Homo sapiens: one gene and its partner. The protein of the gene in region 2 purifies or fractionates together with the protein of the main gene of each other region. This does not show direct contact. Each region holds a gene or a part of one and is shown on either strand. Other genes may lie near its edges. The genes, in order: PALM2AKAP2 and SYT5.

What was found.
Region 1: the proteins of SYT5 (region 2) and PALM2AKAP2 purify together in Homo sapiens (affinity purification with mass spectrometry; 3 studies listed by BioGRID and IntAct, with this or other methods). This does not show direct contact.

The regions. Positions count from the first base shown.
Region 1 is NC_000009.12:109,780,709-109,792,884, reverse strand, and holds part of PALM2AKAP2 (PALM2-AKAP2 protein isoform 3 (PALM2-AKAP2)), read right to left. Parts: intron 1-12,176. UniProt on the Homo sapiens protein: Binds to regulatory subunit (RII) of protein kinase A. May be involved in establishing polarity in signaling systems or in integrating PKA-RII isoforms with downstream effectors to capture, amplify and focus diffuse, trans-cellular signals carried by cAMP.
Region 2 is NC_000019.10:55,176,172-55,186,996, forward strand, and holds the start of SYT5 (synaptotagmin-5), read right to left. Parts: upstream 4,119-10,825; 5' UTR 3,946-4,118; exon of another isoform or gene 3,793-3,945; intron 3,178-3,792; exon of another isoform or gene 3,035-3,177; coding exon of another isoform or gene 2,871-3,034; coding exon 2,792-2,870; intron 2,198-2,791; coding exon 2,025-2,197; intron 1-2,024. Other genes in the region: PTPRH (receptor-type tyrosine-protein phosphatase H), read right to left, coding at 5,583-5,732, 5,845-5,980, 9,331-9,491, 9,691-9,813, 10,054-10,188, 10,293-10,369. UniProt on the Homo sapiens protein: May be involved in Ca(2+)-dependent exocytosis of secretory vesicles through Ca(2+) and phospholipid binding to the C2 domain or may serve as Ca(2+) sensors in the process of vesicular trafficking and exocytosis.

The DNA of each region.
Region 1 (12,176 bases), on a different chromosome or scaffold from region 2:
AGATCAACAACAAATAATATTTTAATATAAATATGTCCCCATGGAATCACTGGGCATCCTATACATTTAGTTGCTAAATGGAACAACCCTAGTAGGGGATAGTGAAAAGACGACCCAGGCTGGAGCAGAAGGTATGTATTAGGAAGAAGCAAAAACTTGTTATATAGGTATGGTAGGGTGCTCATTATGAAACAGTTCCCCACCAATGGCTGGGAACCCAAGTTTCATGTTCTGGTCAACCCTCCCACCCTCAACTGATTTTTAGGGTCTTCAAAGTCAGGGTATAAGGTAGCCCCAAGCAGAATGACTTAGATTCCAGTTAGAGTTTTAAAATCAGCCTTCCTGGGAGACTTTTGGGGGTGATGGAACTGTTCTGTTGCCTGAGTATACCAGTGATTGCACAAATCTACGCATGTGTTCAAATTGAGAGAGCTGTACATCAAGAAAGTCAATTTTAGTGCTGGGAGCAATGGCACATGCCTATAATCCCAGCTACTTAGGAAGCTGAGGTGGAAGGATCGCTTGAGCCCAAGAGTTCAGGACCAACCTGAGCAACATAGCGAGACCCAGTCTTCCAAATTAAAGAATTTAATAAGTCTATTTTTCTCTTCATTCATTTTCATTTTTTTTAAAGAGTGCTTGTAGTTTTTACTTCTTACAGAGAACTGATGAGTTCATCCAGCATGCTGGATAAGGAACTGATTTAAGTAGCAGCCCTGACTCTGACCCAAGACTATGGTTTTCTTATAGGGTATGGATCCCACCAAGGTGCCCAACATACATAAGTGTATCTACAACTCACATAGCTTTATACTGTACCAACCCCCCAGCCCCCATTCCCACATACTATTGGTTTTGTAATTAAATAAAATAGGTTGTGACATGCAGACGTGGAAAACTGGTGGCCCAGGCTGGGGGTAGAGGGGGAGGGTCATTGAGACAGGGAACAAATCCAGCCTACACTGTGTTAAAATCTGTGTTATGTTTGGTTTGGCCCATACAGTATTTAAACTGTTGTGAGCATTTAAACATCAACAGACTTCCTTCAAAATTGGATTTCCAGGTTCTCTTGGAAAAGCAGGAGACCCTGGGCTCAAATTCCCACACAGTGCCCATCAGTTGGAGTTGAGCACTCTCTGTCCCCTCAGGAGTCTGCCCTCTCTTGGCTACCACAGTCCCAAAAGCTCAGCCAAGTCAACCTGGTACCTGTGCACATCTGAGATCTCACCCCCCTAACATAAGGCATTCAGCAGGGTGGCTGGCACATGGACCCTCTCCGGAACTGGGAGCCCTTCCCTCCAACCCCTTAAGAAAAGCTACATGATGAAGTACCATCTTTCCCTTGCTTTCTGAAGCCTGGGGTGCCCTATCTCCCTATAGGGGAGAGGGCGCACTTCTGCTGGAGGAAGGCTGGAAAAGGCTCCCTCCACTGCCATGCCAGGCTGCTTCCTGCTTTTCTCTGTGGACCCAGGCTGAGAGGGGATGAGAGATAGAACCATCCAGAGGCAAAAGCAGGAACATGTCAAGTAGAAAGAGATGACGGTGGAAAGAGAGAAAGGCAGGTGATTAAGCAGTTTACATTACTTTCAACTTTGCCTCCTCTTGTCTGTATTTTTCAGAGTCAATATTTTCTCTTCATTCTCCCTCATCGCATCCAATACTGATCTGACATATATCATTCTCACTCCAGTGTAAATAAGGATGGGGAGTAAACAGGCTACTAGTGTCTTATCTCTAGTCACCAGTAAGATTGGAAAGTACATTCTACTGCTGCCTCCAGGACCTCCTCTGTCTTCTGACCCATCTCCGCCAAACCTATCTCATCTATTGTTAAATATCCTTCGGGTTTTGTGGTGAGTTTTATTTGATTAACAACACTGAATTTTGAACACACATGCTCAGACATCAATGTTCATGAACAAGACTGCCTGCATACCACCTGGAAAAGAAAAATAGGCCATGCAGGTTACAGGAGCACTGCTATCCTAGAGTATGCTTTTGCTTACCTGGATAAGCAGGACTTCCTTTTAGCATCACTCATATTAGCCTTAAGCTTTTTAGATATGTCTCACAGTTCCACTGGAGCAAGGACATTTTCAAAGCACTTCCCACCCCAGTAGAAACAGCACGTGATATCAGCCCAAGATGTATGTCAAGTCACACCACAAAAACTCAGTGTTTAAGGCCAATCAGGTGCCTGGGGAAAGCCAGCTGACTGAGTTCATGCCACCCAGCCAAGAGGCACCTTTCTTAAATCCCGGCCTCTCTCTTTCTCATGTGACATGCAGGACACACACACTATCACAGTTGCCCAAATCCTAGAGCCCCATTTGGTATTTATTGGCCTCAAAGTTGTCGACATTAGCACTCAAACACAGACAAAGAAAATCCCCTGCCTGCCACCAAAGGGGTTAAGTTTTCAAGCATGTTTTTCTCTTAAGAATAACATTTTTTGGTAACCCTCAAGGTTTTAAGTTTCAGCCCTGAATTTAAAAATAAAGTGAATACTTAGATGACTGGTTATAATTTAGCAGAGGGGGGAAAAATCCCACCCACCTAGAATAGTAAGTAAACCAGTATAATTTTTTTTTTCCAGGAAAAAAGTAAGAGTAGGTTTTACAAATGCCTTCAAGATATTTGGTATTGCAAAGCTGTCTAGAGCCTAAAAGCCTGCAGGGTAATGAAATAGGCTTCCACAAGGGAAATGATGGACAGGAAGATGTGTTCCGACGTCTGGCCCACAGCTTTTTCATCTACAGCTGGGGCTTTTATCTTGGGCCTCACATGGCTTTTCTTTCCCCTTCGATCTTATGCAAAAGAAAGGTACAGATTCTCTATTCTTTTCTTCTAGCTAAACTTATATGATCCTATAGAAACAGTGATACTAGGGTCAAAGAGTAATCCAAAGTATTTTTAATATATGTTCAAGCATTATGTAAATAGGGTGTAGTCTTGTCTCTGTGTCTGTCAGTCTGTCTCCCTTTCTGTGTGTATTTAATAATCTCCTTTTGAGCATTTTAATTCAACAAGAGACTAATGAGAAATACTGAGATAATAATTAACCAAGGGCACTGTAGCTCCAACACGCACTGCCCCACACCACCCTCTGCTCCTGCCGGCATTTCCTGTCAGAAATAGATCTCAGCTGTGTGGTCTTCTCCCAAACCCAGAGCACTTATGAGCAACCTTTCCTCTACAAACTCCGCCATGCTGTGTGGCCCATCCCCTACAGTCTCCACGTTCTCTTAGGCCTCATCCTGTACAGTGCAGCCTCTGTGCTTTGTGTTTTAAGATATACAAGAGATCCGGTGAGGCAGAATCCTTCCAAAAATGAAGGGTTAGCTCAAAAAATGCATGGTACAAAGACAAGTGAGGGAAGCCTGCATGACATCCTTGGAAGAATAAACTTGTCCTTGATATGCCAATAACAAGTCATACTTGCATATACACAGACTGGCTTCATAAAATATTAACCATCATTAAGTAAATGAACATCAGTTGCTGCTTCTCCTGGCATCCTATTGGAGTTGCCCACGTGAGAAGCAATCACATCGCGAATTAGCACCTGCAGGCTGGAGAAGGGGCCACCAGGCTTGATGGGCTGATCTGCTATTTGATGTCTTCATCTATACACCATCATATGTATGGCAAGCCTCTCTCAATGGGGCTGTCATGGTGTTGCTGGATATCTTCTCTACTGCATGACTTCTTATCTCACTGAGGTGTCCTCTAAGGCCTCCCCAAGGGAATTTTGTAGCCCATAGTTTCAGTCAGTCAATCCCAGGCAAACTCTCTCAACCTGCCCAGCCAATCCTGGGCAAACCTTCCAAACCGGTGTTGTCAAGTAACCAACAGATATCTCACTTTATTTAAATAGATTAAAGCAAGTTCCCGAGATAAGCAAAGACCTCTTCTTGATTAGCCAGTGTAATGTGAGAAGGACACAGTTACACAGGGTGTCACTCTTGCCCAGTCTGGAGTGCAGTGGCAGTGATCATAGCTCACTGCAGCCTTGAACTCCTGGGCTTAAGCGATCTTCCCACCTCAGCCTCCCAAGTAGCTGGGACTATGGGAGTGCGCCACCGCACCCGGCTTGCATGACTTCCAAACTGGGCTATGTTTAAGGCTCTCATTAATCAAGACTAAATTTGGCCTTTTATTCTATTTCACCTCTTCAGAATATACACACCACACAAACTCCTGGGCATATCACAATGGGCATGTGATGCACATCAGGACCCAGGTCATAATCTTCCTTTACTATTGATCTCCTACACTTCACCAGTCGTTTTCAAAGTGTGTTCCCCAGAATAGCAGTTGCAGCTGGGAACTTCTTAGAAATACAAATTCTCAGGCCACATCACCCTAGACCTACAGAATTAGACACTCTGGGAGTGTGCTCTTGCAATCTGTGTTTTAAGGAACCCTCCAGGTGATCCTAATGCACTAACGTTTGAGAATTACTGTTCTATACCATATATGACAAAAACATCGGTCAAATGGCAGTTGCTGCTACTATGAGTCCTGAGCCCAGCAGAATCTCCCTACAATGTCCATTACTTGAGGCTAATAATAAATCAGGATCAACTCAAACATCCTGACTGACATGAGTTAGGCTTGGGCTTCATATCAGGTTTGCATTTCAGATTTGCATACCTTGAGTATAGGTTCTTAAAGATTCTTTTCTAATAAGAGGAATTTCCCAAATTAAGGTGCTGACTTGATGTGGTTTAGATTTGTTTTGGTTGAGTTAGAGAGCAATTACCTATCTAGATGTGAGTATTCTGAGTTTCAATAATGTCAGTGATTTGCAAGGGCTCATTTAATGTCAAAAGATATCGCAAATAAGCACCATTTATCCAATGATCCAAACATCTGGACACCAAACTCACAAAGCTCTGGTGAAAATGCAACCCGATATTACAACATTATGAAATATCTCAGGGGTGCTGATAGGCTTACTTCACAGTATCCTTATGAAATCCAAATAAATCAATGCATAAGGAAAGCATCCTGTAAAGTTCAAAGCTCTGTCTATATCTAAAGGTCACAAAATGTCGGCCTCTTGATCAAAAGGAATTGTGTTGTGACTGCCAATCTTTTTAAAGTTTTTAAACTAGTTAATACTGTTCTTTTTTAAGTGGGAGATCTCACATGTTAAAAATCAGATTTCTGGCTTCTCTTGAAAATGAGTTGATGTAACAACATAAGACCCACGTTCTCACAAGGCATAAATTAACTGCATCTTAACTGAGAGGTGGCATCTGCTCTCTAGGGACCAATACTTTCGACTCAATCTGTGTCCCTCATTTACATTGCATGCTGGCCCCCTGACCTGTTGAGTTTACTACTCCTGCTTACTACAAATAATCCATTTTTTATTATTAATACTATCTTCATGCATTGAAAACTCAGGAGTTACAACATTTATCTGATTTCCTAGTATTTATCTAATTTCCTAGTTTGACAAAAATGCTGTGGCTAACAAAATTCTCCTTTCACTCTTTGTGTTCACTTTCTGTTTAAAGATGCATAAGTTATGATTTGTTGGTTTGCTTATTATAAATAGGAAAGTTTGTGAGTGCTTAATGCATGCTGTCTCTGAGCATTTCCCAAGAAACCTCTAAAAGAACCATCACAACAAGACACTGAAGTGGGTATGATCATTAGCCCCATCTTACAGGTGAGGAAACCAAGGTACAGTGACATCATACAGATACCAACGGAAAGGCCAGGACTTGCGCCAGGTCTTCCTGACACCAAAATCCATGCTGGTAACTACCCCACCACAATGACAGCCCTTGGGACCACCGTCTCTGTGCATCAATGTCCATCTGCTGTCTCAGTCAATTTCATGCCACAGAATGACCAACTCTTACTGCCAAGCAAGTTCATCAACATTCCCAAATGGGATCAGTGGTGAAATGTGGAGAGTTCAAAGGGGCCAGCAGTGACCCCAAAGCATTGAGTAGCCCCCAAAGAAATATAGAAACAATTCTACTGGGCCCTGGTTTTCCTTTAAATATTGACAAACTATAACCCACAACCCCCCTCACTTAGCTTTTTCTATGATGACTTTTTTTTTCCATGATAACTGCTCTATTTCTCAGAGCATTTTAAAGTTTGTCAGAGTAGCTGCTCTTTGTCCCAATAAGCTGAAGACTGAAATACTCAGAGGTACAAATAAGTAGCAGGGAGGTGTGTGACCCTTATGCATGCTGGGTAAGGCCTGCCTTGGCACTCCCAGACACAGCAATGACCCTGCATGGGCCCAAAGTGTCACCTATCCAGTGGGCAGCTTCACAGACTCAGCCAAGTTGAACCCTTCCTCAGCACCAATATACCACGCAAATGATTTTTTAGGCCTTAACATGGAATTTTAGAAGCAGGGTGTCATCTGCATCTCTGAGATATAAGATAACAGATGAATGACCAGGATCTTAAATTCTCCAGTTCTCTGACAGCTGCATACCAATAACACAAGTCCACAAGGAACATGGATGGGGATGGTCCCCACATGAATCACAGTGCCTGTTTCTACAGGGCTTGGGTTTGAGTCTCTAACCCCTCTGAGGGATCCTTGGGAAGCTGGACTGGATAGTATGTAAATCATTGCAAGGACTTTTTGCCCATGCTGTGCAGGTCGGCCTAAAAGGCCTGGACCAAAAGCAGGGTGGTGGCCTCCTTGGCCACTGGCCCCACACTCCAAGCCTGGTACTCAAGGCTGTAATGCTCCCAGGCAAGAAAAGGCATGGAGAGGCGAATCCAACGAAAAGCCAATGAGCACTTCTCTGTAAGCCCACGGCACAGCCAGCCTAGGCCAACAGCGTATACCCAGGTCTATGCAGGACTGAGAATAGAATCAGATGAAAGCCATAAACTCACTAGCTGACCCCTTGGTGAGAATTTCAAGAATGAAAGAGGCCGAAAGTGAAATCCTAACAAGGGCATATTCCATAGAGACACATCCAAGCTCACTCCTCTCCTCCCAGCCAGAAGATTTTAGTCCAGCAGGATCTTAGTTGCAGTTTCAGCCCGTATCAAAGCACCCTTCCAAGGCTGGATGTACCACTAACACAAGTGATACGGTTTTGCTGTGTCCCCACCCAAATCTCATCTTGAATTCCCACGTGTTGTGGGAGGGACATGGTAGGAGGTAATTGAATCACGGGGACATGTCTTTCCCATGCTGTTCTTGTGATAGTGAATCAGTCTCACGAGATCTGATGGTTTTATAAAGGGGAGTTTCCCTGCACAAGCTCTCATTTCCAGTCTGTTGCCATGTGAGATGTGCCTTTCACCTTCTGCCATGATTGTGAGGCCTCCCCAGCCACGTGGAACTATAAGTCCATTAAACCTCTTTTTCCTTATAAATTACCCAGTCTCGGGTATGTCTTTATCAGCACGGTGAAAACGGACTAATACAAGAATTGGGAGTCAGGAGAGGCTGGGATTTACTACAACTCTTCCACCTCTATCTGTGTAAGCTTGGATAGCTCTGAATACTCACCTGTAAAGCGTATAAGATTTGCTCTACACACCTCAGGAAGAAGGTAGCATATACAAGGTTTTCATAAATTATAAAGTACTGCACAAATGCAAAGATCATTTTTATTACTTCACAGAGTGGGTTCTAATTAAATGACAAAATTCCCTAAAGAACAGCATAGGTTAGATTAGCATTTCCTATTTCCGCACATATATAAACATACTCATGCTGGTCCCTGGTGTAGCCTGAGCCTTGTCCACGTGGCTCTTAGGAGTTTCACCCAAGACAATTTATATAACATTTACTTATTTTCACTCATGCCCAAAGAAAACTATCTTCCTCTCCAATGTGCAGACATAACAGCACCCTCCCACAAGGTTAGTTTCCACTGAGACACAACAGCTTCTTCCCCATGGGAATGTTACTCGTTCCATTAAATTTTATGTTGGGTATTTCTATGCACTGAATCCAGGCTTGAAAGACTCTCAAAAGGAGGTAGGCCTCCTGGCTTGTCTCAAGCTTTCCCATTGCAATGGAATCAGTCTGTGGCTCACACTCAGGCTGCTGAGACCACCTGCACAGTGTGCTCATGGGAAAAGTGCGAGACGCTGCCGCCATCTTGGGTGGCAGCTCAGGGCAGCAGTCAAAGCAAAGGCTCCAATGGCCTGCTGCGGGCAGCATTCAAATCCTGGCTTTGATACTATCAGTTTAATGTTAGACCAGTTCTAGAACCTCCTCACCTATAAAATATGAGTAATACTGTAGTGCCTACCTCATAAGCTTCTTATTAGGATTCAATGAGATAATACATGCTGAAAAGCATTTCAGTGTTCACTCTGAGTTTGTGTCTTTAGCTACTGACTTAACTTCTTCATGCTTTTGCCTTTCCCTTTCTCACACTAAATGTCCTGAATAAATAATAATCAAATAACGAATAAACAAATGCCTCCTGGTAATTGGGAAGGTTATGATGTTATTTTATATTTTATTTTACCCAATTTTCAGGACTTACTCTAATGTCTTCTTTTTGGGGAATTGTTTCACAACTCTGAGATTGGTTTACATGTTCCTCCTGGATGCTCATTTTCATAGTACTCCTGGATAGTAACTGCTTATGTGCTTTTCTATTTCTTCCATTAGACTATAAATAACGTTAGGTGAAAAACAAAAAGTATTTCACACCGTGCCTTTCTGAATGAACAATATTCAATAAATGGCAATTGTTGTTATTAGTCCCTGGGATTACCATTCTCACTCATGCTGTTTCAGAGGCTTTTTACCATGTTCTAAATGTAAAGTTTGGGGAGTATCCCTACAGAAGAAAGGAGCATGTGAGTGTAGAGATCATTGTCAAAGATGGACTTGCTCTTCTTTTGGCAGAAATTAGGATAAGAGTCATCTTTTCTCATTGATTAGTTCCTGGATCCAAATGGAAGATTCCATTAAAGCACTGTAGTTTCTAAGTATTTAATTCAGTTTTGTTGGTGGGGGCGGATATTCCACAGATGTTCATGTGACAAGCATCTTAGGTATCAGGACATCTGTCCTTCAAGAAATTATGTGCAAAAGGTGAAATAAAGGTTTCAGCCTCAGGCAGCTGAAACCTGGGGACACCAACTTTTCAGTGTTGCCAATACCTTCCCAGAGGAGGCAATCTGTAAATACCTACTGAACAAATGGATGAATGAATCCTCAAGTCATATCTCTGCCTCTGTCTAAAGCAGTTAGAGAAAGTGATGCTGGGCAGGGCCCTGACTTTCAGTCAGTTGAAGGAAGGGATTAAAAAAGAGCTGTTCAGACCAAGTATAGTGGCTCATGTCTCTAAACTCAGTGCTTTGGGAGGCAGAGGTGGGAGGATCACATGAGGTCAGGAGTTCCAGACCAGCCTGGGCAACATGGCGAAACCCCATCTCTACAAAAAATTTAAAAATTAGCTGGGCATGGTGGCACATGCCTGTAATCCCAGCTACTGGGGAGGCTGAGGTGGGAGGATGGTTTCAGGATGCAGCGAGCTGTCATGGCAGCACTCCAGCCTGGGTGACAGAGTGAGACTCTGTCTAAAAAAAAAAAAAAGTCATTAATACACATTCCACTTCAGAGATGTTGCTTCTGACCCCCCACAGGACAAGACAGCAATACAGACAAAAGCTAAGGGCTCTGCTCAACACCATCCAATGACAGCTACCTGCCAGGTGCTTCACCTCCATCCTAACTAAACCTTACAACCAGCCCAGGAGGTAGAACTCATGAACCCATTCTACAGATGAAGGAGCTGAGACCCAGACTAAAGACTGCCCAAGGCCCTGCAGACTGGAATCCCAGTCGATTCTCTGCCTCTGAGAGAGAAGCCCAAGTAAGTGAAGATGTGAGGACCTATTGTCTTCTTCCCTCACATCTCCAGAGAGACTTCAGGAGTGCTAGGTTCTGGGGGCAGGCTTGTGATCTCCTCAGGGTCCCCTGAGAACTCCAGGAAAGTGATGAGAGAGTCAGGGTTTGCAGAATTCAGAAGAGTAGGCACTAGACCAAAGCATAGCATAAAACCATTTACCGATGTGGCCATAAGTCCCCCCACCCAACTCCCTCTGTCTCTTAATTGGCTCTCTCTCTCACACACACATACACACACACACACACACACACACACACACACAAACAAACACACGCTGTTAGCAAATCTGTCCTGACAACATCATACAGTCATCCCTCAGTATCCTCAGAGAATTGGTTTCAGGACCCCCTTGGATACCAAAATCAAAGGATGCTCAAGTCCCTATAAAATAGCATGGTATTTGCATATAACCTACTCACATCCTCCCACATACATTAATCATTTTCAGATTATTTATAATACCTAATACACTGTAAATGCGACGTAAACAGTTGATTATACTGTATTATTTAGGGAATGGTGACAAGAAAAAGTCTGTACATGTTCAGTACAGACTCAGCTATCTATTATTTTTTCCAATAGTTTCAATCCAAGATTGACTGAAGGCGTGGATATGGAACCCATGAATAGGGAGGGCAGACTGTATTAGGTGCACATTCATGAGAATAATCAACAGCTCCCCAGATACACAGGACAAACTCAATTCTTCAATAACTGAAGAGGCACAAGTGAGTATTTGTGTGTATTCTTATATGCTCAAGAGAATTCCCAAAGATTTGCCTAGATCTTTCTTGGAAAATCGACTTGGCCTCTGCTGGGATTACTCAACCGCACTTGGAAAAGGGTACCCCAGTGTTAGCAGCTACTGGCTCCATGTTTGGAAAGCAAGTCCTTTCATGGAGTTCAGCTGTTCCTCAGGCATCCAGTAAAGCTGGTTGTGCAAAGGCAGAAAATGTGACAACTGTTGGAAGCCTTCAGCAGCAGCCAATGGGAACAGCCACTGCATCAACAGTTAAAGCAGCCTATTATCCAGTTCACACAAAACACCCACCAGCTACATGGCACCATTAACTCAATATCACCATTCTTATCAAGTTCATGACACACTGGCCATGCTGCCTTGCCACCAACTTTAGAAACCACAAATAACTTCACAAACCATCAAAATACACATGCACAGGGGGAAAGAGAAAGAAGAAAAAAACAACCTTTCTGAGTTCAGAGCACCACGTTCAAAGATTACCTAATAGGCAAACCATGGCATTTCAATATTGCCAGCAAACATCTCTCTCACTTCAGTGGTGAAGTCTCCAAGACATTTCAGATTTGAGGCGTTTGAGAAAGAGGGTCTCAGAGCCTTGGAGACCATGTCAAATGCTTCTAAAAAAGGAAGGGTCTGTGTGCATTTTCCCAATGAAGAATCTGTCCAAAAAGGTTTTGGAAAACGCTTTAATATACTTTGGTTCCAAAACATTACACACTATTTCTCCAACAAATTTATATGTGTTTCCAGAGAACTTCCGAACTGAAAAACACAAATGTATTTAGGTGGAAGAATGTCTGGAGATTCTTTTATGCCAATATGTTAACGGACCTTCTTTTTTAATTGTTACTATTTCATACGGCAGCAGTAATCATTCCCTCATCCTCGAAGGAAATATATAATCCAGCTGTGGTGGCTCCAGTAAAAATACCACATCTGTGGATCATTGGCAACACTGTGTTAAGATTGCTCAAATCTAGGCAGTCTCAGAGAGTTCTTTTTTAAACCCAAGATGCACATGGGTACACTTTTCTGAAAGTGCCTACGAACTTTGCCAAAACTGACTACTCCTTTGTAGGCTGAAAATAGGTTTTCAGATACTCCACACCATAAGAAGGAGGCTCTCATGGAATATTATAACCAGGACCCAGTTGTATGAAGTCCCCAGACCTCCAGGGTGGTGGCTTGTGCCAGTGCCCTTGTCAATATCAAACAGAGAAGGGAAAACTAACATTCCCGGTTTCTGGGAGGAGGTTCTACCGCGTGGCTGGCTGAGTCGCTGACTCCTGGTTTTCCACTTAACAGGAGGACAGCTTCCGCAGAGAGGATGGCAGCCACCGTTCAGGTCACCCTTCTCTTGGTTCTCCAGGCTATGAAGCCAACGTATGCCTGAGCATTCGGTCATAATATTCCTGGAGTCGTCCCCCCACCCCAAGCCTCTGTTTAGTCCTTCCCCAAAGCCCAGCAGCAAGCATCTTTTTTTAAGCCAATCTTCCACATTCAAATCCTCAGTCCAAAGCGCGCCCTTGGGGGTC
Region 2 (10,825 bases):
GTATCCATCAGGCTCAGAAGCCAAGGGAGGCTCACAGGTCCCTTGGGCTATACCTGAGCTCTCACAGGCTAAGCAGATTCAGTATTTGACTAGTGCTGTCTGCCACAGGCAGGAAATAGACGTGGTAACACAGATGCAGTATGTTTGTGAAGGTTTGATTAGTGGTGTCTGCTATGGGCAGGAACTAGACATGTGCTTGTCATGCTTAGATTAAAACAAGTGCTGATAGTGTCCCATTGCCCACAGGAATAATGCAGGTTTTATTTCACATGCTAATGGATGTACTGGGGTGCTAGTCCAAACTGCCATGTTTACTTGTGATCTTAGCACAGCAAAACATGGAGGAGAAATGGCATATTTACTGTGTACTTGCCATTCTAAAGTTGAATGAAAAAGCAGAAGGTGTCTCCTTAACCTAGGCCAGCAATTCTTAAAATTCAATGTGAACCTGAATTCCCCTGAATCCTGTGGCAAAATGTCTGAGGTCACCTCTTCAGGGATTCTGACTTGATAGGTCAGGTGCTAGTGCCAGAATTTGCATTTCAACAAGTACCCAGTGTGATTCTGCTGCAGACGGTCTTTGAACATCACTGGTTTAAGGGACAGGGATGGGGCTGGACACCAGGACCCTAAATAGCATCCTTTACGGATGCTAATTGAACAGCTCCTTATTGAGAAGGAAGGAGGGGAAATACCAAGTTAGTGACCACAGACTTGAGGCTCAGAGAGGGACAGTGAGTTCTCCAAGGTCACACAACCAGGAAATGGTCCTTCTTGGTTGGAAACCTAGGGCTGTCTGGCTCCCAGGCAACCACTGCACTCTGCACTGAGAGACTTAATTTTCAGACCCTGCAGTGACCACTTTCCATTCCAACGGCCTCATCCAATGCAAATGTCTTTTATCCTCTCCAGGCTGCTGCTGCACTGGCCTCGTCCCTGGATCCCTCGCCGCAGATCTGTCCTACACAGGGTTCCAGAGGAGTCATCCTAACACCATCTGACCCTGTCCCTCTCATGCTCAAAACATATTTGTAGCCTTCATCACCTTCATGACATGGATACTGCTGAGTTCTCCAGACACTTCACTCCAGAGTGCAGCTATTGTGAGAAATGACTCTTTGTTCCCCAAATAAGCCTCAGAATCTGGATATGGGGCCTGAATCTGGATATGGGGCCTCAACACATGCTCCAACTTGGACTAGAATGTCCTTCTCTCTGGTCTCAGTTAACTCTGTCCCTCAGGTCTCAGTGCAGAAGTCACCTCCACCACGAAGCCTCCTCTGTCTGACCCTCTGTTTTAAACTTTTTCCTACTGTAAATATGTCCCATTTTCTGAAAAAAATCAGCATATTTTAAAGTATTCTGGCACAAAGCTGGTTTTCAGCTTTCAGAGCCATTTATTTATTTATCTATTTATTGGAGACAGAGTCTCGCTCTGTCACCCAGGCTGGAGTGCAGTGGCGCGATCACAGCTCACTGCAGCCTCCACCTCCCGGTTTCAGTGCCTCAGCCTCTCGAGTAGCTGGGATTATACCACACCACCATGGCTGGCTTTTGTATTTTTAGTAGAGACAGGGTTTCATCATGTTGCCCAGGCTAGTCTTGAATTCATGACCTCAGGCAATCTGTCCACCTCAGCCTCCCAAGTGCTAGGATTACAGGCGTGAGCCACCGCACCCGGCCCAGAGCCAAATATTTATATGTTTCTGTAGGTTTCTATACAGTGGGATGCCTTTTCTGTGCTCCTATGAGACCCTGTAGTATGGCACATATTACCCTGTGTGGTGAGTGTCTGTGTCAGTGCCTGACTCTCCCACCAGACTGGGAAGTTCTTGGGAATAGCAACTAGTTCTGTTCCATCTCTGGGTCCCCAGAGTCCAGTTGAGGGCTAGACACACAGGGAGGATGAGCCAGTAAGGTGGGTTCCTATAGGACAGAAGGGAGCAGGGACTGGGACCAGCTGGGCCATTGAGAGGAGCAGGGTGCGGGAAGGGGCCAGGTGGAGGGGCTGGGCTGGGCCACACCTTGTCTATGTAACTCTGGCCCAGCCCCTTCACTTCCTGAAGGTGGACCTGGGCTTGGGCCTGGCTCTTCTTGCCTGTCCGCCTCCGACAGCTCTTCCGGTAGAGACAGAAACAGCAGCTGAAGATGAGGAGGCCTGAGACCAGCACGATGGTGGCCAGGGCCCAGGGGGGCACTGCAGAGGGGTGGAGACAACACACATTGAGGCCTGGGCAGCACGCAGGCTGATTCAGTCCTGATTACACGTGGAAGCTGGAATGCTGGCCTCCTTTTCCCTCCAGCCATTTTCATTGCATTTCTTCCTGTGTTTTTCTTCCACCTAATGTGGCCTATAGAGAGATTCGATGCCCCAACCCAGGCTGACACCATCTGGATTTGCTTGCTTGTTAGTTCTGCCTTTCCTTACCCGACCCCGCCCCCCATTTCTGCTCAACTCCTGATGCTTTTACAAGAAGCCCTGCTCCTCATCGGGCCTGTTTCCTTATCTGTAAAAGAAGAGCTAGGTGGACCTTCCAATTCTAAGATCCCATTCCATGCAACACCCCTTGATCCGGTTTCGATTTTTTTTTTTTTTTTTTTTTTTTTTTTTTTGCAAATCTGTTCCTTCCTTTTACCCCATTTCGTTCGCATTCCAGTCCAGGATGACGACCCGGGATCCCAGCCGGATTTTCCAGCCCGCCTGCCCGAGTACACCCGTCCGAATCCCGCCCCTCGGAATCCTGGCCAGGCTTTCTCTCTGCTCGGCCCCCCACCCCCGGGTCTTGCTCACCTGGGCCGTGGCTGATGCGACTGGAGTCGGGAGGCGTGTCGGGCGATGGAGGCCCCGGGGTTGGGGGCTCCGGGAACATGGTGGCGGGGTCCTGGAGTCTTTTCTGCAGAGACACTCAAGCACCCTAGTCCCCCATTCCCACCCCAGACGTCCTTTGAGCCCCACGCACAACAAAGAACTCCAACTCCCATGAGGCCTTTGCGCGAACAGCCGCGCAGAAACCGGACAGCCACCGCGAGTCATGCTGGGAGTTGTAGTATCAGCCTCCCCGCACTTGAGAGGGGGTGTCCAGGACCTAGTTCCATCCTAAAGGGATACCCTCTTCCTCCACGGCCCCACAGGCATCCCGCTGACTTCTGCCTCGTCCTCGCCCCTCCGCAGGGTCTGAACCGGAAGCGGGCGAAGGCAGACGTGGGAACCAGCAGACCGCGTTGCCCAGAGCAACAGCCGGGCTCCTCTCAAGCGGGGTGAGAGCAAAGCTGGTTGCCCGGGCAACGGGTTGTTGCCAGGACAACGGGCGGGGCTGACGCACAGACGCGGAGTCCCGGCGGGGCAGGCTCGCTCCGGGGCCCACCGGTGCCTGGGAACCCCCCAATAGCCCGACTGGGATCCTGAGGTCCCGCGAGGTGGGGAGCGGGCAGCCTGTGGTCCGAGCGCCCACAGCCGACTGCTCCCTCCGCACCTGGTCCTGGGAGCTGAGACGCAGGTTCCCTCTTCCCTCTCCCCAATTTTGCTGGAGGGCGGGTCGGGGGCTGCCCGGTGCCTGTGCTGAGCCCCCTCATCCTTCTTGGCCTGTTGGTCTCTCCACGCATCCGTGCTGCTCTCGTGACCGCCTCGGTCTCCACGCTGCCTCTTGACCCCACATAGGCGTCTTCCCTGTGTCTGCCTCCCCAACCCGCCTGTCTCTCTTCCCTATCGCCTGGCCTCTGTCTCCAGGGTCTCTCCCTCTCCCCTCCGCCTGCGCCCCACTCCCCGCCCTCGGCTCTTTGTCTTCTCCATACCTGTCTCGCGTCCCCAGATCCCTGTCTCTCCGCTTCAGGCTGCTGCCCTCCCTCTGGTTGTCTCCCCAGTGCCCCAGCCCCCACTCGCACACCCCTTTCCTCTAGGGATGCGGATGCGGATGGGCTGAGGGCGGGGGTCCCAGCAGCTCCTACCTGCTCGGCGGCTGGACGGGACACTCCCGGGAGACGCCGAGGCGCCAGCCCCGCCCGGACCCCACCCCCTGCACGTGGGCGGTGGCGCTGTCCCGGGTGCTGATCGCGGAGCTCTCCGGGGCGGGGGAGCCGCGGAGCGGAGCAGGATCCCGTGCGCGCGTGTGTGCCCGTGTGCGTGTGCGCGCGTGTGTGGTGTGTATTGTGTGTGCCCGTATTTGGTCTCGGGTAGGCGGAAAGCCCTGCCCCGCCCCTCCTCCCGCCTCCACCCGGGAACCTCGATGACGCCCACAGATGTTTATCCTGGTGCTTTAGCATTTTCTGCCTTCTGGTCCAGTCGTTGGCCGTCCAGACCACTCCACTCCTCCCGCCCCAACACACACGACACACACCCTGTATAGCCCAAAGAACGGCATGCCAGGATACTCAGTCCTAGGACCTAGGAGACCCCAGACCCCCATTGGAGACCCAGACTCTGCAGGGTTCAGCATCAAAGTCCCCAGCTATCAGCCCCCAGACATCGCCCTCTAAGTTCCCCTAACACCAGTCCCAGGAGGCGGCCAGTGCGGTGGCTCATACCTGTAACCTCAGCACTTTGGGAGGCCGAAGCAGGAGGAATGCTTGAGCCCAGGAGCTGGAGACCAGCCTGGGCAACATAGCAAAATCCCGTCTCTACAAAAATGAGCCAGCGTGGTGGTGCGCACTTGTGATGGCAGCTACTCTAGAGGCTGAGGTGGGAAGATCACCTGGGCCCAGGAGGTCAAGGCTGCAGTGAGCCACTGCACTCCAGTCTGGGCAACAGAGCAAGACCATGTCTCAAAAACAAAAACAAAAACAGAACAAAACAACAACAACAACAACAGAGAAGAGTAAAAGAAAAGCTCAGAAGGCAAGTCCCCAAGCACCTAGCTCCAGCGAGCCCTGTCCATACTGCCCAGACCCTGGACACAGACGTCTGGACACTGCCTTCTCTGAGAGACTCAACCACCCAAACCTACATTTTTTCATGTGCAAATGTGTGGGTCCCTCTAGTCCCCTCCTGGACGTTCGCCTCGATCCCTAGATACCAGGAACCCATCCCTACTCCCAATCCAATATTATTTCCAGACCCAGAAATCCATGGGACAACTGTCTCTGGGGAGAACAGTGATTTAATAAATTATGGGATAGAAGGAAAAATACATGTGGATGGTGGGGTGCAGAGAGACCTTGGGCACAGGGACTCCCTCCGACCCCAGATTATAGAAGACTGATTTGGTTTCTGAAGTAAAATCAAGGCAGGATCCTTCCTGCCTTTGGTCCTCAAGTAGCCAGAACTCCAGACCCAAATTCCTTCCTGCCTCAGAATCCAGGCCCCAGCCTGTTTCTTTCTGCATCCTGGAAAGACCTAGGGAATCCAAGCTATCATCCCTCTCCTCCTTCAGGGAACCAGGAATCCAGATCCCCAGCTCCCATAGGACTCATCTGAAGCCCACCAGACCACTCTCTCCTGGGGAAACCAGAGTTTGGGATACCAGCCCCCTCCTCCCACAGCACCCAGGAGTCTGGGAGCCCAGCCCTCTGCTCTTCCAGGAATCTGGGCTCAAGTGGGTGTCCAGAGCTTGAGGATGCCTGGGCTGCCGACCCAGCCCCCTCGTCACTTAGACCTCCAACTTGTGGGCCTGGATGGCGGCCACGTTCTCGTAGATGAGGTTTTCGACATCCTCATACGGGACTTCCTTCTCGGCTGGGGCCTGGGCTGACTGTTGGAGGAACCGCAGGATGCACTGATGCAGGAATACGTACTGAGCCTGGGAAGCAGGCACGGGAGTGAGAGGCGTCCCCCCAGGTCTGAGCTGCGTGGAGCCCCAGGGTCCCTCGTCCCACTGCCTCCCGTCCTGTGTTGCTGAGGGACTGCCTCACCTCAGTCTGCACCATCAACGGCCGACTCTCTCTCATCTTCCTTACAAAGCTGAAGGGCCCAAGGAGACCCTCGGACTGCAGCTGCCGGAGCAGGACGTCCAGGGCAATGAGGGTTCCTGTGCGACCCACGCCAGCACTAGGCAGAACAAGGGAAGGGTCAGACCAAGGGGCAGGAGTGTGAGGGTCCGGGGTCATGGCTGATTGGAGGGATCTGTGTTTGAATGATGACAATAACTATGCCTGCTCACACCTGTAATCCCAGCACTTTGGGAGGCTGAGGCCGGTGGATCACCCAAGGTCAGGAGTTCCAGACCAGCCTGGCCAACCTGGCAAAACCGTCTCTTCTAAAAATGCAAAAATTAGCCGGGTATGGTGGCGCATGCCTGTAATCCCAGCTACTTGGGAGGCTGAGGCGAAGAATCGCTTGAACCCAGGAGGTGGAGGTTGCAGTGAGCCAAGATCACACCACTGCACTCCAGCCTGGGCGACAAGAGCAAAACTCCCATCTCAAAAACAACAACAACAACAACAACAAAACTGCCTGGAGTTCCTTCCATCTGTTAGGCTCTGTTCTAAGTGCCTGATGGGCCTTCTTCACTCCTCCCAAACCTAAGAAGTCGGATGTACTAGCTCCATTGTACAAATGGGGAAATGGAGGCTGAGTGAGGTGAAGTCCCATTCCCCAGGCCACTCAGCTAATAAGTGGCAGAGCCGGGGTTCAAATACAGGAAGAGGAACTCTCCAGCCAATCATTTAGTAATTCCTTTAAACACAAAAATTAGTCTTTTGTTTTGTTTGAGACAGGATCTCTCTCTGTCACGAAGGCTGAAGTGCAGTGGCATGATCTCGGCTCACTGCACCCTTGACCTCCTGGGCTCAAGTGATCCTCCTGTCTCAGCCTCCTGAGTAGCTTGGATCACAGGCATGCACCACTGCATCTGACTAACTTATTAACTTTTTAATAGAGACGGGGTCTTGCCATGTTGCCCAGGCTGGTCTCAAACTCCTGGACTCAAGTGATCCTCCCACCTCAGCCCCCCAAAGTGCTGGGATTACAGGCATGAGCTACTGTGCCCAGTGAAAAAATTAGCTATTTTAGGCTGGGCACAGTGGCTCACGCCTGTAATCCCAGCACTTTGGGAGGCTGAGGTGGGTGGATCACGAGGTCAGGAGATTGAGACCATCCTGGCCAATATGGTGAAACCCCGTCTCTACTAAAGTACCAAAAAAAAAAAAAAATTACCCGGGTGTGGTGGCGGGCGCCTGTAGTCCCAGCTACTCGAGAGGCTGAGGCAAGGGAATCACTTGAACCCGGGAGGCGGAGATTGCAGTGAGCCGAGATCACATCACTGCACTCCCAGCCTGGGCGACAGAGCAAGATTCCGTCCCCCACAAAAATAAATAAATAAATAAATTAGCTATTTTAAGCTGGGCGCACTGGCTCACGCCTGTAATCCCAGCACTTTGGGAGGCTGAAGCAGGCGGATCACCGGAGGTCAGGCGTTGGAGACCAGCCTGGCCAACATGAAGAAACCTCATCTCCACTAAAAATACCAAAATTAGCCAGGCGGGGTGGCAGGCACCTGTATTCCCAGCTACTCAAGAGGCTGAGGCAGGAGAATTGCTTGAACTTGGGAGGTGGAGGTTGCAGTGAGCGGAGATCGCACCGTTGCACTCCAGCCTGGGTGACATAGCGAGACTCTGTCTCCACAAAAAAAAATAGCTATTTGAACGTGAGCAATTTGTCACACTCACAACGCTGTGCAGCCCCCACCTCTATCTACTTGCAAAACACTTTCATCACCCCTAAAGCAGACACCACGCCCATTAGGCCGTCTCTCCCTATTGCCTGTCACCCTCCAGGGCCTGGAAGCTACTAATCTCTTCAGTGTCTCTGTTGCTTTGGCTGATCTAGATATGCTTCTGGATATGCACACTAATGGAATGATGTGATGACATCCACTCAGCTCTAAAATGGGGAGGACATTGCCGGGCACAGTGGTTCACGCCTGTAATCCCAGCACTTTGGGAGGCCGAGGTGGTCGGATCACTTGAGGTTGGGAGTTTGAGACCAGCCTGACCAACATGGAGAAACCCCGTGTCTACTAAAAATACAAAATTAGCCGGGCGTGGTGGCACATGCCTGTAATCCCAGCTACTCAGGAGGCTGAGGCAGGAGAATTGCTTGAACCCAGGAGGCAGAGGTTGCAGTGAGCCGAGATCATGCCACTGCACTCCAGCCTGGGCAACAAGAGCGAAACTCTGCCTCCAAAATAAACAAACAAATAAATAAATAAAATAAAATAAAATAAAATGGGGAGGACACCCTTTTGCCATGAGACTGTCATGAGGAGCAGTAGAACTGTGTAAATGTTCACTGTGACTGAAACCAGAGCCCCAGTCTCAGGGGCTGTTACTCTTCCTCATCTCCCTAATAGTTACCGTTAGGTGAAATCTGACCTACGGGACTTCAGCATAAATATCAGGAAAGGGTCAGGTGCGGTGGCTCACGCCTGTCATCTCAGCACTTTGGGAGGCAGAGGCAGACGGATCACGAGGTCAGGAGTTCGAGACCAGCCTGGCCAACATGGTGAAACCCCATCTCTACTAAAAATACAAAAATTAGCTGGGTGTGGTGGTGAGCAGCTGTAATCCCAGCTACTCGGGAGGCTGAGACAGGAGAATTGCTTGAACTCGGGAGGCAGAGGTTGCAGTGAGCTGAGATTGCGCCATTGCACTCCACCCTGGGCGACAGGGAGAGACTCCATCTCAAATAAAATAAAATAAAATAATAAAATAAAATAAAATAAATAAAATAAAATAAATATCAGGGAAGCAGTTGATGGGGGAGGCCCTGCACTCCAGCACAGGGAAGTGTCTCCAGTGTTTCTCAGAATCTGTGGCCACATCCCCATCCTGTGGCTTCATCCTTTCTCCCTTCTCTTCTGCATTCAACCTTCTCTGCCTTTACCTTTTCATCTTTCTTTTTTTCCTTTTTTTTTTAATCGAGACAGAGTCACCCAGGCTGGAGTGCAGTGGTGCGACCTCAGCTCACTGCAACCTCTGCCTCCCGGGTTCAAGTGATTCTCCTGCCTCAGCCTCCTGAGTAGCTGGGATTACAGGTGCCCGCCACGACACCCGGCTAATTTTTGTATGTTTAGTAGAGACAAGGTTTGTATGTTGGCCAAGCTGTTCTCAGACTCCTGAACTCAAGTGATCCACCCGCCTTGGCCTCCCAAAGTGCTAGGATTTACAGGCATGAGCCACCGCTCCTGGCCTGCCTTTTCATCTTTCGTTCCCATCTTTTCATCCTTATCCCCTTTCTTTTCTTAATCTGCTTCACGCCCCCCTTTATCTTCCACATCCACCTCCTCCTTCTCTCCCTCTTCACCTCCCCTGTACGTTCCCAGGGTCCCGTCTAACACAACTGTCTGAGCCCCAAGGGAGCGGTTCTCTCAAGGGAGAGGGTCCTGGGCTGGTCCCCACCTGCAGTGCACAATGGGTGGGCCTCCCTCCATGGTCTGATCCAGCCACTGCCGAAGCATCCTCCAGAAAGCCAGCAAGGTGTCTGGGGAGGAGGGAACGCCGTGATCCGGCCAGGCCTGGTAGTGGAATTGGCGCACAGACAGTGTCTTCTGCTCCTCCACCTGGAAGGAGGGAGCACTCACAGGCTCTGGAGATGAATGTAGGGAGGACCTGGCTTCTAGCACCAGGAGCGGGTTCCCTGGGGCACACTGCAGCTCCTCAGAGGAGTGGGTGGAAGGTTGGAGTTGGTGGAGGGTCCTGGATGCATGGCATATGTCACAGGGGAAGGCTGAGGGCCAGGACGGGGCTGGACACACGCACCTGGAGGAGCAGCAGTTCCCGCACCGTCCAGTTCTCCATCACTTCCTCACCTACCAGGGTTACCCGCAGGTGCCCATGGGTGCAGGGCTGCGAGTCCAGAGGCCAGTAATGCTCACACTTCACCTGGGGGAGGAGGAGGGGTCAGAGAACACAACTCCTCTTACCCAGGTCTGTGGGGTCTGCTTTAGGCCCCAAATGTGAACCAGCAGATGGGCTGGGGGGAGAGTGGGGAACAGGTCTACACTGAAGACGCCTGGGGTTACCCTGGAGGAATCCGTAAGGTCTGGGTGTGGGGTCTACATTGGATGAGTGTTCGGGGCGGGGTCCTGCACCCAGTCAGCACCCAGGACTCAGATCTCTCACCCGGCCGGCCTCCATGCAGTTGGTCAGCATGACCAGGGTGTGGCTCTGCTGTTCCCACACCAGGCGCCAGAAGTCACCCACTGTCTGTGGCAGGGGACCCTGGGTTGCAATGAACTCCTGGGGGCTCCAGAGACCCTGGTTGAGGAAGGCAGGCGGGTCAGGGGGGCCTTTAGTTGATCCCCGAGCTCTTATCTCTCCAGGCGTGCTGGGCACCCTTTCAATCCCAACCACGACCTTACGGGCATGAAGCTGGCATTGATGTAGTCAGAGCCTGGCTCCTCATGGATGGGCTTCAGGGGCACCCGGGACCAGTCATCTAGGAGAAGAGGCCAGCATTAGCCAGGCAGAGAGACCCAGAGAGGCACAGAGACAAGACCACAGGCAGAGAGACCCAGAGAGGCACAGAGACAAGACCAAGACCCATGGACAAAAGTCATGCCGAGACGCAGGCAGACCTTGGGAGCTACACAGGGACTGAGAGGGGCGGAGGGACCTCAGCTGCAGGGAGCAGGCCAGGAGGACTCTCAAAGGGACCCACAGCCGGGTGCAGTGACTCACACCTGTAATCCCAGAACTTTGGGAGGCTGAGGTGGGTGGATCACCTGAGGTCAGGAATTTAAGACCAGCCTGGCCAACATGGTGAAACCCGGTCGCCATTAAAAATACAAAAATTAGCCAGGCATGGTGGCGGGCGCCTGTAGTCCCAGCTACTAGGGAGGCTGAGGCGGGAGGATTGCTTGAACCCGAGAGGTGGAGGTTGCAGTGAGCGGAG